3 linked regions of the Homo sapiens genome follow. The protein of the gene in region 2 purifies or fractionates together with the protein of the main gene of each other region. This does not show direct contact. Each region holds a gene or a part of one and is shown on either strand. Other genes may lie near its edges. The genes, in order: BST1, OR14J1 and PRSS21.

Region 1 (4,392 bases), on a different chromosome or scaffold from region 2:
AAAGTTCATTGCTGTCATTATTGTAAGAATTGAGGACTTGGGCCTCCACGTGGTATTCTATTAATACTGGCTCTTTTTTTTTTTTTTTTTGAGACGGAGTCTCACTCTGTTGCCCAGACTGGAGTGCAGTGGCCCGATCTCGGCTCACTGCGAGCTCTGCCTCCTGGGTTCACGCCGTTTTCCCGCCTCAGCCTCCCGAGTAGCTGGGACAACAGGCGCCCGCCACCGCGCCTGGCTAATCTTTTGTATTTTTAGTAGAGACGGGGTTTCACCGTGTTAGCAAGGATGGTCTCGATCTCTTGACCTCGTGATCCACCCGCCTCGGCCTCCCAAAGTGCTGGGATTACAGGTGTGAGCCACCGCGCCCGGCCAATCCTGGCTCTCTTAAACTGAACATCTCCAGGATTTTGCATCTATCAGGAAGGGATATTGTGACCTCTGACAAGTTACAGTCGGCGGTAGGTATCCATGGAGAATTGGTTCCAGGAACCTCCTGGATACCAAAATCCACAGATGCTCAAGGCCCTTATATTAAATGGTGTAGTATACAGTATTTGCACATCCTCTTCTATAATTCACGTCATCTCCAGATTCCTTGTAATATCAAGTACTATGTAATTGTTACATAAGTAGTTGTTACATTGGATTATTTAGGGAATGATGACAAGGAAAAAAAAGTCCGTACATGTTCCGTACAGATGCAAGCATTCTTTTTTTCCTCAAATGTTTCTCATCCGTGGTTAGCTGAATTTGGATGATGAATCCGCAAATCTGGAGGGCCGAACATGCTTAACTTCCCTGAGTTTATCCATTGCTAAAGCGAGAGAAATTACAAACTTAGCTAGGAAGGGTGTTGCGGAAAGTAATTAATATTATACTTGCAAAGTGCTTGGCACGTTGTTGTGGTTATTATTTCCTGAAAACAAACAAACACCACTTATTGGTTGGTGTGAAAGAGGGCATCTGTCAAAGTTGTCGTCCTTTGGAGCCAGAAAAGTATTTCTTCTGATGATGACTGACCTCTCCTCACCTCTCCTTCAACCTTGCGGCTTCTTTGGGGCTCCCTCCCCGTGGACAGCGGTCAAGATTAGCCTGGGCCACAGTGCACTGGTCCTGTCCTGGGTGATGTTCCAAGCTCACTCTTTTTTAATTTTATTTATTTATTAATTTTTTTTTTAGACAGAGTCTCACTCTGTCGCCCAGGGCTGGAGTGCAGTGGTGCAATCACTGCTCGCTGCAGCCTCGATCCCCTGGGGTCAAGCCTCCTCACATCTCACCTCGCAGGTAGCTGAGACTACAGATGCGCACCACCAGGACCAGCTAAGTTTTGTATTTTTTTGTAGAGAGGAGGTTTCTCACCTGTATGTTACTCAGGTTTGTCTCGAACTCCTATACTCAAGCGATCCGCCCGTCTAGGCCTCTCAAAGTGCTGGGATTACAGGCATGAGCCGCCGCGCCCCGCCCCACGCTCAGTCTTGAAATTGTCTGGAACGGGAAACGGCAAACAGCGAGATATCCGAGCGAGAGTCCCGCCCTGCATCAGTTTGCGGAACCGCCTTGGTAGAAGGAGAGAAGGGGAGTGGAGGAAGCACGGGACTGGAGGGACCAAAGTTCCCCGATGGCGGCCCAGGGGTGCGCGGCATCGCGGCTGCTCCAGCTGCTGCTGCAGCTTCTGCTTCTACTGTTGCTGCTGGCGGCGGGCGGGGCGCGCGCGCGGTGGCGCGGGGAGGGCACCAGCGCACACTTGCGGGACATCTTCCTGGGCCGCTGCGCCGAGTACCGCGCACTGCTGAGTCCCGAGCAGCGGTGAGGCAGTCGGCCGGGTGGAAGGGGAGCCGGAAAGAGGCAACGGTGGGGAGGGCCTGGGGAGGGGAAAACTGGCGCTAAAGTTCGGGGTGAGGGGGCAATGAGAGAGGCCTTGAGGGGAGAGGTGAGTGTGGAGACAGCGATGGTCCTGAACGATGGGGGCGAGTGAGGAGGGGGCTGTGAAGTGTGTCTGCAGGTGAGGGGTGCGCTGTGCGGGGTCTAGAGATGAGTGTGTGTGTGTGCGCGCACACACACACTGTAGAGGTGAGGGGTGTGTGCGTGTGTTCTAGAGGTGAGGGGGGTGTGTGTGTGCGCGCGCTCTAGAGGTGGGAGGTGTGTGTGTGCTCTAGAGGTGGATGTGTGTGTGTGTGCTCTAGAGGTGGGGGTGTGTGTGTGTGTGTGTGCTCTAGAGGTGAGGGGTGTGTGTGTGTGTTCTAAAGGTGAGATGTGTGTGTGTGTTCTAGAGGTAAGGGGTGTGTGTGTTCCAGAGGTGAGGTGTCTGTATGTGTGTTCTAGAGGTGAGGGGTGTGTGCATGTGTGTTCTAGAGGTGAAGGGGGTGTGTGTGCGTGCGCTCTAGAGGTGAGGGGTGTGTGTATTCTAGAGGTGAGGGGTGTGTGTGTTCTAGAAGTGAGGGGTGTGTGTGTTCTGGAGGTGAGATGTGTGTGTGTGTGTTCTAGAGGTGAGGGGTGCGTGCATGTGTTCTAGAGGTGTGTGTGTATCTGTGTTCTAGAGGTGAGGGGTGTGTGTGTGTAGTCTAGAGGTGACAGGTGTGTGTGTGTGGTCTATAGGTGAGGGATGTGTGTGTGGTCTAGAGGTGAGGGATGTGTGTGTGGTCTAGAGGTGAGGGGTGTGTGTGTTCTAGAGGTGAGGGGGTGTATGTGTATTCTAGAGCTGAGGAGAGTGTGTGTTCTAGAGATGAGGTGTGTATGTGTGTTCTAGAGGTGAGGGGTGTGTGTGTGTTCTGGAGTTGAGGGGTGTGTGTTCTAGAGGTGAGATGTGTGTGTTCTAGAGATGATGGGTGTGTGTGTTCTAGAAGTGAGAGGTGTGTGTGTTCTAGAGGTAAGGGATGTGTGTGTGTGTGTGTTCTAGAGGTGAGTTGTGTGTGTGTTCTAGAGGTGAGATGTGTGTGTGTTTGTTCTAGAGGTGAGGGGTGTGTGTGTGTAGTCTAGAGGTGACAGGTGTGTGTGTGTGGTCTATAGGTGAGGGATGTGTGTGTGGTCTAGAGGTGAGGGATGTGTGTGTGGTCTAGAGGTGAGAGGTGTGTGTGAGTGTGAAGGAGGGTGGAGAGGTATCCCTCTAGAAGTGAGGGTGGGGTAGAGGTGAACTGGGTAACAGCCCATTGCCACCCAGCAGATGTTTAGTCTGAATACTCAGAACCCAGAATGTGATCTCAGGTTGGAATTCCTTGAGTCCAGTCCTTCCAGAATTCAAATTTCAGATCCCCTAAATCTGGAGGATTTCTGAAGTTTGGGTCTTTCTTGCCAGTGCTGCATTTCTTACTGATTTTTGTTCCTTCTGTGGCCCCCCTTTTCTTATGTTTGTGATGTCTTTCTTGTGCTGATCATTTTTATTGTCGCACATTTCAGGCAAATAAGAAACAGCAGAGAACCACCTGTGTTACACACCACCCAGTATGAGAAACAAAGTTACAAATGCTATGGGAAATATTTTTTGAAAACTAGCATGGACCTCAAGAGGGGCTTGCACTGGAGGGTGCACCTGCTTTGCCAGAGGTGGAAGCCTTTTGCAGCATTGGGCCTCCCTCCTAACACTACACATCCTGCTGGCTGGCCTGGCCTCACCTGGTCCCCGAGCTCCACACTGGAACTGGACTATGAGACTGGCCCCACCGTTAGGTCTAAATGAAGAGGCACCTGCTGTATAGTTGACTGAATTTGTCACCTCCTGCTCGGTGCCATTTCTGCTTGTCTCCGTGAGCCTGGGGCAAGGCTGTATTCCTTAGCTCTGAGAAATCTGTGCAGTGCCTTCAGAGAGACAATTCCAGTGTCAGATTTCTGAATCTGTCACCTAAGCCATGACAATTCGTTGTCTTTTTTGTAAGCCTACTTCTGCAGTTACTATATGAAAAATCTCTTGTAAAGCTCTTAGACAAATGGGCATACTTCACAACACATTATGATGTGCATGTGTGTGTTCTTCCCAACTTGTACTTTTGCACAGGAACAAGAACTGCACAGCCATCTGGGAAGCCTTTAAAGTGGCGCTGGACAAGGATCCCTGCTCCGTGCTGCCCTCAGACTATGACCTTTTTATTAACTTGTCCAGGCACTCTATTCCCAGAGATAAGGTAACACCACAACCATCTTGGGTAAAACTGTGTTCTCTGTCTCTACAGAAATGGATGGTGCATGGGCCAGGTTGACATTAGCTGTCCCCTGCATCCTGCAATGTCACAGAAACATCAGGCAGCACACATAATGTGTGTGCTGAGCTCTCTGTGGGAAGCTAGCTTTGTTTCTGTATTAGTCCGTTGTCACATTGCTATAAAGAAATGCCTGAGACTGGGTAATTTACAAAGAAAAGAGGTTTAACTGGTTCACAGTTCCACAGGCTGTACAGGAAGA
Region 2 (3,644 bases):
ATTTGAGAAATCTCAGGAAAATTAACTAATCCTTCCTAAATTTATTGTTCCTATTGGCAAAATGGGGACAATATGTTATAGCTAGAAGAGTTGTTTTCTTGAGTCAAAAAAATGTATATATATAAAGCACTTGATACTTACTAGGGGCTGAATAAATTGTTGAAATCACCACTGTAATAATAGTAAAAGAACTTAATATGAATACTTAATATGGATAGAAAACTAGGAGGCCCACTGGAAATACCATATATGCACCATAATATTAACCCAGTTAGCTTCATCTATCTCCAACCTTATTTGTTAATAACAAGTTTTAAATTATACAGGCCAGACTCCAAACTAATTGTCTTTCTCCTTCATTTCAGAAAAATTTTCCAAAGATGACTTAAAATAACACTTGAATTGGAGGGAGGAAGGAAAGCTAATATTATTAGAGCACAACATCTTAAATTTTAAAGAATTATATTTGAGAGGAATATATACAATAGACAGCTTGGAAGAGCATTCTGGGTAGAAATAAGATTCACCTCTCTTCCAATCTGAAACATAATAACAATGCCTTTCATTTGTATGGTTCTTCAGAGTTTAAACATGGCTTTTAAGCACATTTTTCTCTGAGGAAGCTCTTCCTTTGACAGCATCTTCCTCAGTGCTGCCTTCATGGAATCATTCCGTAAGCTATAAATGACTGGATTGAGTGTTGGAGGTATCACAGTATAGAATACGGAGAATACAAGGTCCACAGTCGATGAGGAATCAGAAGGCAGTCTGAGAAACTCAAAGCCTGCAGCTGAAAGAAAGAAGGTGGCTACAAATAGGTGTGGTAGGCAGGTGGAGAAGACCTTGGTCCGGCCCTCAGCTGATGGGATTCTCAGCACTGTAGAGAAGATGCGAATGTAGGAGAGCACAATGGAGATCAAACAGATAAATGCTGCAGACGTTGTGAATGCAGCCAGTGCAATCTCATTAATGAATTCATAAGAACAGGCTAGTTTCAGCATCTGAGGAACATCACAGAAGAATTGGTGAATGACTCTCTTCCCACAGAGAGGTATGGAGAAGTTAATGGCAGCATGCATGAGCCCAGAGAGGCCCCCAGCAATCCACACAGCTATCACTGCATGCCTACAGGCACGGGGATCCATAATAGTCTCATAATGAAGTGGTTGACAGATTGCTGCGTACCTGTCATAAGACATCACTGTGAGAATGGCCACTTCTGATGAGGCCAGAGCTATGAAGAAGAAAACCTGAAGAATGCACTGAACAAGAGAAATGTAACCGTTGCCCATAAGTGAATTTGCAATGGACTGGGGGACTGTGACAGAGATGAAGCAGAGGTCCAGAAGAGAGAGGTGCTTTAAAAAGTAATACATGGGGGAATGGAGACGACGGTCCACGGTAATGATGGTGATAATGAGGAGGTTGCCTGTCAAGGCCAGCAGGTATGTCACCAGAAATACCAATGCATGTAAAATCTGAAGCTTACGCTCATCAGAAAACCCCATAAGAAGGAATCCACTCATTGAAGTCAAATTGACCATAGTCTCTCTGAAGATACCAAGTGTGACTCTGTTTAGGAAGCCAAAGACAGTAGGAAGAAAATGCATGACATCTAATATATTTGTGTGTCAAGTAACTCAATTCCTCAGCAAGGAGGTACTGAAATGAGATGAATTTATTTTCATTGCGATTAGTTAATATTCAATTCAAAAACGTTTTAGCAATTATTCAGAAATAGAATCCCTGAATGTGATCAACAAGTCATAAACATTTTCTGGAGCAGAGTTTGCATTGTCAAAGAGGGAGAAATTGATGGAAATGATAAAGTCTTTACCTTCAATAAAGTCAATGAAAATGATTCTAGCATACCAATCTCATTACATCTTCTATATGATGCCTTAGTATTACAACGATGCACTATATAGCTTCTTTTGCTAACCAGCTAACATGAAGTTATTGATACCACCTTGCAAATGGATCTAGAAACAGCTCAGAGGCAGATCTAGAAACAGCTCAGAAGCTAATCTAGAAGAGAGGTTAGCTCAAAGAACAGTCATATTTTTTCCTTTGAAAAGCTCTTAACACTTTAAAAAGATTACATTTGATTGTAATAAACTTTTCATAGAAATTTTGAAAAATGAAATGTCTCAAAATTGTAAAATGCAGATGCCACTGATATCAGGCATTGAATCCTGAGCTTTGGAGATCTTGCAACTAAGTGACAAAGGTTCACCGTCAAAGAACGTTTAATTCTCAAAATTCTTATGACAACTTGGGGTTGGACATTTTCAATCAAATCCATTTGAAGAAATAAAGAGATTTTCTAAAATCTATGTGATAGGCAGAATGCTAGGTAGTAGAGTATATATCTTTCTAGTGCTGTGTCTCATTGTGAGTTCCTGAATGAAAAAATATATATATATATTTCTTTCTAGGACTTGAAATATATTAGATAGTGGGAGCCCATTTCTTAAAATAACCAACCAAACAAAAAAAAAATCTATACCAGATGTAACAATTGTTAGGAGGATTAAATGATGTAACTTTTCCTATTTCATTTTAAATGTGCTATTATTATAGAATCAACACCATCATAGAATTATTTTGTGTATCAGAATCACTCTGCTAACTAATTTTTGCCTCTTTTTTTTCTTTTTAAATCTGTGCATTTGTTGAAAGGTCAATCAGTATCATTTTCACTGAGTTTCTTCTGCACAAAGACTATTCCTTCATCATTTCTGTCCATTTCTTCACCCTTGACCAAAGGCATCTAACATATAGGTTCTAAGTAAATACTTATTTAACGGGATATCTACATAATTGATTTCAGTTCTATATAGACAAAAACTTAATGGCTAAGTTACATGAGTTAATGCATCTGATTTTGAAGTAACTGCATCTGATATTGTAGTTTGTTTCATTTATTAATCCCTAAGCTGTAGGAAAAGGTTAAAAATCACTTAAACCAAGATCTTTTTGATTTTGCTGTAATTTATTTTGAGAACTGACTGAAACTAATTTTTAGGAAATTTTTTTTTTCCACAAGGAACAGTCTCAGGGCTGGAAGGGCCCTTAATCCCTCACTGATGGTCACATCCCCTGCTTCATGGCAGTAGGAATCAGAGGAAAACAGGGGTTACTTTCTTCAAAGTTTCTCTAGCTTTCTTGCTCCTACAGTTTTCCTGGTCCTCCATAAGATATAGCTTAATCCCCAGTGCTGCCAATCTTAATGCCTGGCTTAACTTGCTCCAAATATTGGATGGTAGTTTTGGAATTTAAAATAAAATGTGAATAGATGAAAGCAATTCACTTATATTTTAAAACTTACTGTCTCTGGCTTGAAAATCAAAAGCATCGTGTTACTTACCACTTCTAATACACATTGTTAATGTAATCTAAGAAAAACCTCTATCATTTAGCCTCCCCATTAAGGTTTCTCCATAGAGGGAAGGAGGAGAAAAATCGTAAGAAAAAACTTGAATGCACACACCATATTCTCCTCTCAACAACTCCCACCAACCTATTTTCATTTTTATTTTCTTTGAAGACATAGATAATAATTTTTATATCTGATTAATAAATGGAAAATTTCATCATTTTAATTTCACTAGTTCCAAATTGTATTGATTAATTCATCACTT
Region 3 (4,133 bases), on a different chromosome or scaffold from region 2:
CCTGTCCCCTGCCTCCCCGGCACTGTGAATTGAGGCACAGCCTGGGGTTGGTGTGACCTGTCTACCCTGGGCTGGGGAGAGAGGGTGGCAGAGGCAGCCTGGCCGTGCCCCTGGCTCATATCCACTCGTGTTTGCAGCAAGGGTCCTTCTCAGGGAAGGCAAAGGATCCCTCCTCCAGAGGGAGGCGGCTCCAGTGCTGAGTTCCCCACTCCCAACTGCCGGGGTGTGACTTGGGGACATCCCTTACCCTCTCTAAGGCAAGGGGCCCTGACTTCTCCATTTACTAGTTCTTGGCAATTTCCATAACCCTCTCAGTTTTCTCATCTGTAAGATGGGTATAAGAACGTTACCAACTTCATTCCTAGGTGAGCTCCAGCAGGAGGAGAGGCCGCGCCTGGCTCACTGCTGGGCCCCCATGTCTAGAACAGTGCCAGGCACACAGCGTGTGCTCAAGGAACCACGTTTGTTATTGTTACTACTGTTGTGGGATGATGCAGGGACGGGCCAGACAGGGGAGCAGAGGGAAGGGATTCCTGATACAGGGAACACGCCCAGTCTGGGGCTGCCGGGGCTCCTCCGGATGCTGGGCCCACTTCTTTCAGGGCATGTGTGTTGGGGGACACGCAGGTGCCAGGGCAGGCCCACCAGAGGAACCCCCAGAGGGGTTTCCGTGGGAGCTGCGGTTGAGCATGGCTTGGAAGTTTCTGGGGAGAGGAATGGGCTCAGTGCTGCAGGAGAATCGGCCAGAGCTAGGGTGGGTGTGGGAGGCATGGAGAGGCAGCCCAGGAGCCTGATGCCTGGGGCATTGGTGAGCACTGGGGGAGGTGGAAAGATGCAGGAATAAATCCAAGTATGAGGTTTATGTCGCCAAGCCCTCCAGAACCCCTCCACCACCGCACCACCCACAGGCCTGCGCCAAACTGGCCTCCCTCTCACACTCTCCTTCTGGCCCCCACAGCCCCTGGAAGGGAGAGAACTGGGTGTTTGGTCCCTGCCCTGGCAGGTGAGGAGAGACTGCAAGCAAGAGGGGCATAGCCTGCACCCCCAGACCAAGCAGGGGGCTATTGTGCCTATGCAGGGGAACAGGTGAACAAAGACAGTTCCTCCCTGACCCGCCTGTCCCCAGCCTCACCCTCATCCTCTTTGATGTACCCCCAGCCAGTCACCCAGCAGTCTGTCCGGTTCTCAAACTCAAATGTGGAGGCCTGGAGACAGATGGGCTGGATGTGTTTAGTGTAGGTGACAGGTGCAGACAGCTTCACCAAGGCAATGTCATAGGGTGAATTCCCCAGGTAGCGAGGGCTCAGATAGATATTCGATACGAAGTAACGGGTGTAGTAGGCCTGCAGGCTCCAGAAGGATGGCATGGAAGTCAGCTGGCCAAACTGGACCATCCACCCGGAGGGATCACTAAGGTCACTATAGCTGGCAGAAGAGAAGAGAGCAGTCAGGGGCCCTGGATGGAGGGCTGGCTACCTGAGCACAACTGGGGTCCAGTGCAGGAGGGGAAACTGTGGTGTTGCTGCTACTTGCTAACACCCAGGGTCCCCTGCAGAAATGAAGGAGCCCAGACAGACCACAACCAAAGTCCTAGGACCTGCTCCTGCAGCAGAAGGGTGGGGTCTTGTCACCTCCCAGAGCTGTCCCAAGGAGCCTTGCATTGAGCCAAGGCCTCCAGGGGCACCCCCATGCAGCCCAAGGAGGAATGGGGAGATGCACCACGCCAATGTGGGATTGGCAGGATGGAGTCCACACAGCGGCCCGGGGGTGCTGGCCTTGGCTCAGTGCCCCACACTGTACCGCACCGTCCACCAGGAGGGGGGATGAGGGTGGGATGGTCAGTGGTGAACTTTGGGTTGAAAGAAAAAGGGAGAGAATACCCAAAAGTGTGTGGAAATGTTCTGGAAGAACATTCTGGAATAACCTGAACAGGGTTCCCTCCAGGAGACCCAAAGGGAACTGGAGTGGGTGTAACCGGCTGCAGCACAGCCTGGGGCTCAGGAGAACACCAGGCCGCATCCACGCACAACTTTCACGCCCAAGTCTGGCATCAGACCAGAGGTAAAGTTCGGTGGCACTCCCTCCAGCCCTGTTCCTGCCCGTCCCCGCACCCCTCCGTTCGCACCCCCACTCACGTTTCAAAGCAGTGCGCCGCCGTGAGTGCCCAGCGGTGGCTGAGCAGGCTCACTCCGCATACGTGGGAATCCCACAGGCGCAGGCTCCCCTGCCACGGCCAACGCCCGAGTTCGGCGTCCTCTCCACCCACGATGCGCGACGTGATGACCCGTCGGCCGCATGGTCCTCGGATGGTCAGAGGAACTGCTGAGCCGCGGGAGGCAGCCCCCCAAGCCCGACCTCTCCCTTTCTCCCCTTCAACCCCGTCCGGGAAAGCACGTTTTTGCCCACCCAGGGTCCCCTCGCGTGTGTGCAGCAGGAAGTAGGTGACACTGGAGATCCTCCCACGTGCTCTGCAGGGCCCGCCCATCCCCCTCCAGCGTCCGTTAGTTACTTTCCACGCCAACAGAGTTCTCGATCCCGGGGGCGGGGGCGAGAGAGCAGTAAAGGCCCCCCTCTACCCCCTCACCGCCCCCCGTCCACCTCGGCCCAACGGCCCTGGCAGGAATCGCGCGTCCTGGGCGCCCTACCTGATAACGGCGCCGCCTCCTGCGACTCTGCGGGAGACAAGAAGTGACTCCCCGCGGCCTCCACCTCCCGTCCTCCCCACCGCTCCCCCGCCTCCCCATCCCGCCAGCAGCGCCCCGAGCTCACCCGGCTTCCTGAGTCCAGCCCGAGCCAGCAGCAGCGCCAGCAGCAGCGCCCCGCGCGCGCCCATGGCCTCCTCTCCCGCGGCCTGACGCCCCCTCTGCCTCCTCTCGCGCCGGGCCCGGGGCGCCCCCTGGGGGCGGGGCGGGGTGGGAGCTCTGCCCTCTACTCCCAGCTTCACCCTCCTGGGCCCAAGGGCTGTTTGGGGCCTCTCATGCCTGGCAGCGCCCTGGCTTTCAGCCCCTAGGGGCGGGTCTTCAACCACACTTCTTGATGTGGCCCAGACCCGGTGGACCCCACAGTCCCTTTCTTGTCTGCAGCCCAGGGGTCCCGGCTGCCCTCTTGGTGACCCCGTCCTCCACCTACAACCTCCTCCAGCACCAAGGGCCTGGCCCTGAGCCAGGAGTCCCCTTAAAGCCTGGGGACCCCCTGAAGGCCGGGTGGGGCCTAGAGGCATGGCTGCTCCTTCATGGGACCTTCTTGGGAAAACAGTGGTCCTCGGCCCGTTCCACCCAGAATGGGGATCTCCCCAAGTCTCTGCCCAGGCTGTCCCCACTGCGGGCTCCCGCTGGGCTCTCTTCACTTCTCTGGAACAATTTTTTTTTTTTTTGAGATGGAGTTTCGCTCTTGTCGCCCAGGCTGGAGTGCATTGGCGTGATCCCAGCTCACTGCAACCTCCACCTCCTGGGTTCAAGCGATTCTCCTGCCTCAGCCTCCCAAGTAGCTGGGGTTACAGGCGCGCGCCAGCACACCTGGCTCATTTTTGTATTTTTAGTACAGACGGGGTTTCGCCATGTTAACCAGGCTGGTCTCCAACTCCTGACCTCAGGTAATCCGCCCACCTCGGCCTCTCAAAGTGCTGGGATTACAGGCATGAGCCACCGCGCCCAGCTGCAATTCCACTTCTGAGCATACACCCAAAAGAACTGAAAGGAAGGTCTTCAAGAGATATTTGTTTTTGGTTTTTTGGGGGGATTTAGTTTTGTTTGTTTTTGAGATGGAGTCTTGCTCCATCGCTCAGGCTGGAGTGCAGTGGTGCGATCTTGGCTCACTGCAACATCTGCCTCCTGGGTTCAAGTGATTCTCCTGTCTCAGCCTCCAGAGTAGCTGGGATTAGAGGCACCTGCCACCATGCTTAGCTAATTTTTGTATTTTTAGTAGAGATGGGGTTTCGCCATGTTGGCCAGGCTGGTCTTGAACTTCTGACCTCAGGTGATCTGCCCTCTGCGGCCTCCCAAAGTGCCAGGGTGAAGGTGTGAGCCACCCCACCCAGCCTTCAAGAGATATTTGTATACCCATGTTCATAGCAGGATTATTCACAGTAGCTGACATGAAAGCAACCCAAGAATCCATTGACCACTGAACAGATC

The links.
Region 1: the proteins of OR14J1 (region 2) and BST1 purify together in Homo sapiens (affinity purification with mass spectrometry; one large-scale study listed by BioGRID and IntAct). This does not show direct contact.
Region 3: the proteins of OR14J1 (region 2) and PRSS21 purify together in Homo sapiens (affinity purification with mass spectrometry; one large-scale study listed by BioGRID and IntAct). This does not show direct contact.

What each region holds. Positions count from the first base shown.
Region 1 is NC_000004.12:15,701,527-15,705,918, forward strand, and holds the start of BST1 (ADP-ribosyl cyclase/cyclic ADP-ribose hydrolase 2 precursor), read left to right. Parts: upstream 1-1,538; 5' UTR 1,539-1,618; coding exon 1,619-1,806; intron 1,807-3,988; coding exon 3,989-4,115; intron 4,116-4,392. UniProt on the Homo sapiens protein: Catalyzes both the synthesis of cyclic ADP-beta-D-ribose (cADPR) from NAD(+), and its hydrolysis to ADP-D-ribose (ADPR).
Region 2 is NC_000006.12:29,304,590-29,308,233, reverse strand, and holds part of OR14J1 (olfactory receptor 14J1), read right to left. Parts: intron 1,573-3,644; 5' UTR 1,545-1,572; coding exon 579-1,544; 3' UTR 1-578. UniProt on the Homo sapiens protein: Odorant receptor.
Region 3 is NC_000016.10:2,815,969-2,820,101, reverse strand, and holds the start of PRSS21 (testisin isoform 1 preproprotein), read right to left. Parts: upstream 2,866-4,133; 5' UTR 2,834-2,865; coding exon 2,770-2,833; intron 2,673-2,769; coding exon 2,646-2,672; intron 2,302-2,645; coding exon 2,136-2,301; intron 1,426-2,135; coding exon 1,133-1,425; intron 1-1,132. UniProt on the Homo sapiens protein: Could regulate proteolytic events associated with testicular germ cell maturation.